Linked DNA regions of Homo sapiens. The protein of the gene in region 2 purifies or fractionates together with the protein of the main gene of each other region. This does not show direct contact. Each region holds a gene or a part of one and is shown on either strand. Other genes may lie near its edges.

The links. The genes of interacting proteins can lie anywhere in the genome.
Region 1: the proteins of INTS9 (region 2) and NELFB purify together in Homo sapiens (affinity purification with mass spectrometry; one large-scale study listed by BioGRID and IntAct). This does not show direct contact.

What each region holds. Positions count from the first base shown.
Region 1 is NC_000009.12:137,261,827-137,265,326, reverse strand, and holds part of NELFB (negative elongation factor B), read right to left. Parts: intron 2,291-3,500; coding exon 2,105-2,290; intron 1,083-2,104; coding exon 970-1,082; intron 1-969. UniProt on the Homo sapiens protein: Essential component of the NELF complex, a complex that negatively regulates the elongation of transcription by RNA polymerase II.
Region 2 is NC_000008.11:28,879,970-28,883,469, forward strand, and holds part of INTS9 (integrator complex subunit 9), read right to left. Parts: intron 1-3,500. UniProt on the Homo sapiens protein: Component of the integrator complex, a multiprotein complex that terminates RNA polymerase II (Pol II) transcription in the promoter-proximal region of genes.

The sequences.
Region 1 (3,500 bases), on a different chromosome or scaffold from region 2:
AAACAAACAAAAAAAAGGCTGGGTGTGGTGGCTCACGCCTGTCATCCCAGCACTTTGGGATGCTGAGGCCGGTGGATTGTTTGTTTGAGACTAGCCCGGGCGAGGTGGTGAAATCCCATCTCTACTAAAGATAACAAAAATCGGCCAGGCGCACTGGTGTGTGCCTGTAATCCCAGCACTTTGGGAGGCGGAGACAGCAGGATCAATGCCCAGGAGGTTGAGGGAGACTGTACCACTGCACTAAAGCCTGGGTGACAGAGACCCTGTCTCAGAAAAAAAAAAAAAAAAAAAAAAAGGAAGAAAAAAAGTGGCAAAGGCAGGGCCAGGCAGCACTGTGTCTATACACCAGCCAGAGGATGCTGGAAAGCAAATGCCAATGGATGCCCCTCAGCTCAGAGGCTGACCCCACGCCACTGCAGACACCAGACCCCAGCCCCTGGGCCTGGCTCCAGAATGCAGAGTTGAGGAGGGAGACTTTGCTACCCACACACATCCCGACAACCATGTCCCTAAGCTGTGGGCCAGCAGTGCCCGGCATAGCTCTATTGAAACATCCAGGAGGCCAGGCACGGTGGCGCATGCCTGTAATCCCAGCACTTTGGAAGGCTGAGGCGGGTGGATCACCTGAGGTCAGGAGTTCAAGACAAGCCTGGCCAACATGGTGAAACCCTGTCTCTACTAAAAAATACAAAAATTACCTGAGCGCAGTGGCGCGTGCCTGTAATCCCAGCTACTTGGGAGGCTGAGGCAGGAGAATGGCTTAAGCCTAGGAGGCGGAGGTTGCAGTGAGCAGAGATTGCACCACTGCACTCCATCCTGGGCTACAGAACGAGACTCTGTCTCGAAAAAAACAAAAGAAAAAGCAATATCCGGGAATAAACGCCTGCTACCCACGGCAAAACACAGCAAGCGCAGACCGGATGCACGCAGGGCCCTGAGGGGCAGAGGCCTCGTGGAGCCGACCCTCACCCCAGCACCTGCTCCTGGCCCTTCTTGACGCCATCGAGAAACCCCTGCAGCTCCCGCGCCCTCTTGCTGTCCACGAACCGCTCTCGGATGCAGGCGTCCAGGCACCAGGTGAACTGCAAGGAGGAAGCACGGTCGGGACCAGCCCAAACCTCCCAGGATGACCAGAGACCCAGGCCCCAAACACAGCTCCAGGCCCTGGCCTCTTGTTCAATCATAGCTGCTGCGGGGGGCGGCAGCAGGCACCAGTCATCCTGACGGTGCAGTGTTCCCCACACCTCCCGGCCAAAGCAGCAGGGTCAGGACAGTGGTGGAGAAAGTGATGATGTTTCTTTCTAAAAACGGACTCCTTCATGGCACCCTGAGTGTGGGGGTGGCCACTGCAGCACTCCAAGCAATGGAAGCCTCGGAGGGTGACTCCCAAGTCCCGGAAAGATGGTCTCAGGGCTGGAGGGTCCGTATGAAGGGAAACCCCGTTCCTAGAGCACTTGGTACCTGGCCAACAAGCAGCACCCAGGGTTCTGGGGAAGGGGAGGGCCACAGGCCAGGTGGAAAGATGGGAGGAAGCTGGGGCAATGGTCAAGGTCCAGCCCGTAGGTCATACAGCCCTCGGGAACACAGAAAGGGCTGGACGGGGCAAGGGAGTCCCCGGGAACGGCCAGGTCTCTGGCTCAGATGCAGGGGACTAGCCTCCTTCCCCCATCAGGGTCTGGAGAGAAGCCAAAGGGCCAGCACACAGGACAGAAAGACCAGAGCCCAGGAAACAGGCATGGGAGAGAAGGGCGCCCAGGTGGTCCCGGGCCAAGCCAAACCCACGGAGAGGAGAGGAGCCAGGAGGGCCAGGGGGAAGGAGGGAGGGCAATGCTACCTTCAGGAGGGGCAGAGGGGGAAGGAGAGAGGGCCGGGGAGTTGGGGGGAAGGAGGGAGGGAGGGCAGCGCTACCTTCAGGAGGGCGGAGGGGGAGGAGGGAGGGCCGGGGAGCGGGGGAGAAGGGAGAAGGAGGGAGGGAGGGAGGGCAGCGCTACCTTCAGGAGGGCAGTGGGGGAAGGAGGGAGGGCCGGGGAGTGGGAGGGAAGGAGGGAGGGAGGGCAGCACTACCTTCAGGAGGGTAGGGGGGAAGGAGGGAGGGCAGTGCTACCTTGTGGCACGGGTCCACGGTGCAGATTTCACCCACGTCCAGGTCGTGCAGGGACATGAGCAGCTCAGCCCGCAGCGTGCAGTAGTGCACATTCCGCGTGCGCAGGAAGAGCGTGCGCAGAAACTGCAGCACCATGTCGTACAGCTTCACGTTCTTCCCCACCATCCGCGTCAGCCGCTGCACCACCTGCAGCAAGAGGCACTGTCAGGCCCCCAGACCGTCCTGGGCTCCGCCAGACACAGGGACGTCACGCCCGGCGACAGCGCGGCCCTCTCTCTGGACATCTGTCCTTCCTACTTTTTGGCAGAAAACATTCCCTCCTCTCATTAAATATTGGCCCCCAGTCTGATGGTAGCAGGTTCTGTTATTTTTATTTTTTTTATTACTTTTTTTGAGACAAGGCCTTGCTCTGTTGCCCAGGCTCGAGTGCACTGCTGCAACTGTGGCTCACTGCAGCCTTGACCTCCTGGCTCAAGTGATCCTCCTGCCTCAGCCTCCCAAGTAGCTGGGACTACAATTGCATGCCACGACACCCAACTGTGGGCAGCAAGCCACCCAGGTGCCAAGGCAAGAGACCAAGGGCACGAGCTGTTCCAGTATAACAAAATATGCAAGAATAGTTATATTAGATATAGATCATAGATATGATTATATTTGAATATTAGTCATTAGCTTGTAGCAATTACTCTTTATTCCAATATTATAACAATCCTCGCTCTACAATCATAATCTAGGAAAAACCAGGCCATACAGAGATAGGAGCTGAGGGGACATAGTGAGGTGTGACCAGAAGACAAGAGTGCGAGCCTTCTGTTATGCCTGGACAGGGCCACCAGAGGGCTCCTTGGTCTAGCGGTGACGCCAGCATCTGGGAAGACGCCCGTTGCCAGGCGGACCAGGGTCTAGCGGTAGCGAAAAATGTGAAGGAACAACACCCGCTACTTAGCAGACAGGGAAAGGGAGTCTCCCTTTCCCCGGGGGAGTTTAGAGAAAACTCTGCTCCTCCACCTCTTGTGGAGGGCCTGACATCAGTCAGACCTGCCCGCAGTTATCCAGAGGCCTAACCGTCTCCCTGTGATGCTGTGCTTCAGTGGTCACGCTCCTTGTCCGCCTTCATGTTCCATCCTGTACACCTGGCTCTGCCTTCTAGATAGCAGTAGTCAATTAGTGAAAGTACTAAAAGTCTCTGATACGCAGAAATAACGGCGTAAGCTGTTTCTCTCTCTCCTCTCTCTCTCTCTCTGCCTAGGCTGCCAGGCAGGGAAGGGCCCCCTGTCAAGCGGACACGTGAACCACGTGACCTTACCTATCATTGGAGATGGCTCACACTCTTTACCCTGCCTCTTTGTCTTGTATCCAATAAATATCAGCGCAGCCTGACATTCGGGGCCACTAC
Region 2 (3,500 bases):
ACTCTGAAATCTACTAAAAGTCATTGAATTTTGTTTTATATGCAAGAATTTTACATATTACATATTACACCTCAAAAAAGCTGTTTAAACAATGTAAAAAAAGGTAACTATAATAATATCATTTACATATTAAAACTACTGCTTTTTACCCATATTTCCACATGCTGGAAAAAAATAGAGGAAAGAAGACTTATAAAGCTAGAATATCTCATTATGCTTGCCTTTATTTTAATGGCATAGAAAAATGTAGACATAGCTCTCCCTCTCCCTCTCCCTCTCCCTCTCCCTCTCCCTCTCCCTCTCCCTCTCTCTCCCTCCACGGTCTCCCTCTGATGCCGAGCCAAAGCTGGACGGTACTGCTGCCATCTCAGCTCACTGCAACCTCCCTGCCTGATTCTCCTGCCTCAGCCTGCCGAGTGCCTGCGATTGCAGGCGCGTGCCGCCACGCCTGACTGGTTTTCGTTTTTTTTTGGTGGAGACGGGGTTTCGATGTGTTGGCCGGGCTGGTCTCCAGCTCCTAACCGCGAGTGATCCGCCAGCCTCGGCCTCCCGAGGTGCCGGGATTGCAGATGGAGTCTCGTTCACTCAGTGCTCAATGGTGCCCAGGCTGGAGTGCAGCGGCGTGATCTCGGCTCGCTACAACCACCTCCCAGCCGCCTGCCTTGGCCTCCCAAAGAGCCGAGATTGCAGCCTCTGCCCGGCCGCCACCCCGTCTGGGAAGTGAGGAGCGTCTCTGCTTGGCCACCCATCGTCTGGGATATGAGGAGCCCCTCTGCCTGGCTGCCCAGTCTGGAAAGTGAGGAGCGTCTCTGCCCGGCCGCCATCCCATCTAGGAAGCGAGGAGCGCCTCTTCCCCGCCGCCATCCCATCTAGGAAGTGAGGAGCGTCTCTGCCCGGCCGCCCATCGTCTGAGATGTGGGGAGCACCTCTGCCCCACCGCCCTGTCTGGGATGTGAGGAGCGCCTCTGCTGGGCCGCAACCCTGTCTGGGAGGTGAGGAGCGTCTCTGCCCGGCCGCTCCGTCTGAAAAGTGAGGAAACCCTCTGCCTGGCAACCGCCCCGTCTGAGAAGTGAGGAGCCCCTCCGTCCGGCAACCACCCCGTCTGGGAAGTGAGGAGCGTCTCCGCCCGGCAGCCACCCCGTCCGGGAGGGAGGTGGGGGGGTCAGCCCCCCGCCCGGCTGGCCGCCCCGTCCGGGAGGTGAGGGGCGCCTCTGCCCGGCCGCCCCTACTGGGAAGTGAGGAGCCCCTCTGCCCGGCCAGTCGCCCCGTCCAGGAGGGAGGTGGGGGGGTCAGCCCCCCGCCCGGCCAGCCGCCCAGTCCGGGAGGGAGGTGGGGGGATCAGCCCCCCGCCTGGCCAGCCGCCCCGTCCGGGAGGTGAGGGGCGCCTCTGCCCGGCCGCCCCTACTGGGAAGTGAGGAGCCCCTCTGCCCGGCCAGCCGCCCCGCCCGGGAGGGAGGTGGGGGGGTCAGCCCCCCGCCCGGCCAGCCGCCCCGTCCGGGAGGGGGGAGGGGGGGGTCAGCCCCCCGCCCGGCCAGCCGCCCCGTCCGGGAGGGAGGTGGGGGGGGTCAGCCCCCCGCCCGGCCAGCCGCCCCGTCCGGGAGGGAGGTGGGGGGATCAGCCCCCCGCCTGGCCAGCCGCCCCGTCCGGGAGGTGAGGGGCGCCTCTGCCCGGCCGCCCCTACTGGGAAGTGAGGAGCCCCTCTGCCCGGCCAGCCGCCCCGTCCGGGAGGGAGGTGGGGGGGTCAGCCCCCCTTCCGGCCGGCCGCCCCGTCCGGGAGGTGAGGGGCGCCTCTGCCCGGCCGCCCCTACTGGGAAGTGAGGAGCCCCTCTGCCTGGCCAGCCGCCCCGTCCGGGAGGGTGGTGGGGGGGTCAGCCCCCCGCCCGGCCAGCCGCCCCATCCGGGAGGTGAGGGGCGCTTCTGCCCGGCCGCCCCCACTGGGAAGTGAGGAGCCCCTCTGCCCGGCCACGACCCCGTCTGGGAGGTGTGCCCAGCGGCTCATTGGGGATGGGCCATGATGACAATGGCGGTTTTGTGGAATAGAAAGGCGGGAAGGGTGGGGAAAAAATTGAGAAATCGGATGGTTGCCGGGTCTGTGTGGATAGAAGTAGACATGGGAGACTTTTCATTTTGTTCTGTACTCAGAAAAATTCTTCTGCCTTGGGATCCTGTTGATCTGTGACCTTATCCCCAACCCTGTGCTCTCTGAAACATGTGCTGTGTCCACTCAGGGTTAAATGGATTAAGGGCGGTGCAAGATGTGCTTTGTTAAACAGATGCTTGAAGGCAGCATGCTCGTTAAGAGTCATCACCACTCCCTAATCTTAAGTACCCAGGGACACAAACACTGCGGAAGGCCGAAGGCCGCAGGGTCCTCTGCCTAGGAAAACCAGAGACCTTTGTTCACTTGTTTATCTGCTGACCTTCCCTCCACTATTGTCCTATGACCCTGCCAAATCCCCCTCTGCGAGAAACACCCAAGAATGATCAATAAAAAAAAAAAAAATAGAAATAAAATAAAATAAAATAAAAAAAAAAGAAATATATGCAAGCGATATTAACAGCTAAAAAAAAAAAAAAAGAAAAAAAAAAAGAAAAATGTAGACATAATGTATTTAGAAAAAGAGACTCTGATTAAGCCATAAATCTGAGAAATGGATTATGCAAGACATCTTATTATACACCTCCCCCACCTCTTCATAAACATCAGTGATGAGAAATAAACTACCCTAAAGCCAAAAAAGGTGTTAGTTTTACAATACCTATTAAAGAATAGCTTTCTTGAACATCATTTGTCTGATTACCTGTCTTTGAGAGAGCTAAAAGTTCATTCAAATGTGCTTTCAATAAATTTAAACATTTTAAATCTTTGAGGCATTTCCTTCAAATTCATGGTAAATCAGGGGCCATTTAAACCTGTTGTTTTTCTCACAGTAAAGTTCCCACCACACAGTTACTAGTCTTGATCACTGAGCAACTTGCGACTTTCAAGCCAGTGCCTTTCTCTTGCAGGGTCTTCTCTATTTTCCCTTCCTGTCCTTTCTTTTCCTACTCTTGCCTTTTCTTGCGATCCCTGCAAATTTCTGGCACGTACCCCTTTCTTAGCCCTGCCTGATGTGTCAACTCCAGGCTTCCTCTCACTGGCCTTCCCCTTTCTGGGGAGTATAGGGGATTTCCTCTGCCATCTACCCACACTTCCCCAGCTGCCTCTCCAATCTGTCTGATCTCACAGTACCATCATCTTAATTCCTACATCTATGCACTGGCATTTCCAAAGCAACACCATAGATCTTTTACAAGCTTCCTTTTGAAGATTCTTATGGCACCATATTTTTATCTGAAGAAATGTGTTCCCCTTTCTGGTCCATCTTCCCACGTCTGCAATCACTACTCCAGGGACACTTTACTAAACACGGATGAAGTCTATAGTAGACTGAGAGCATGTGAGGATAGATCAAAGAAGAAAGTTACATTCAGAAGACAAATAGTAAAAGTAAAGAAAC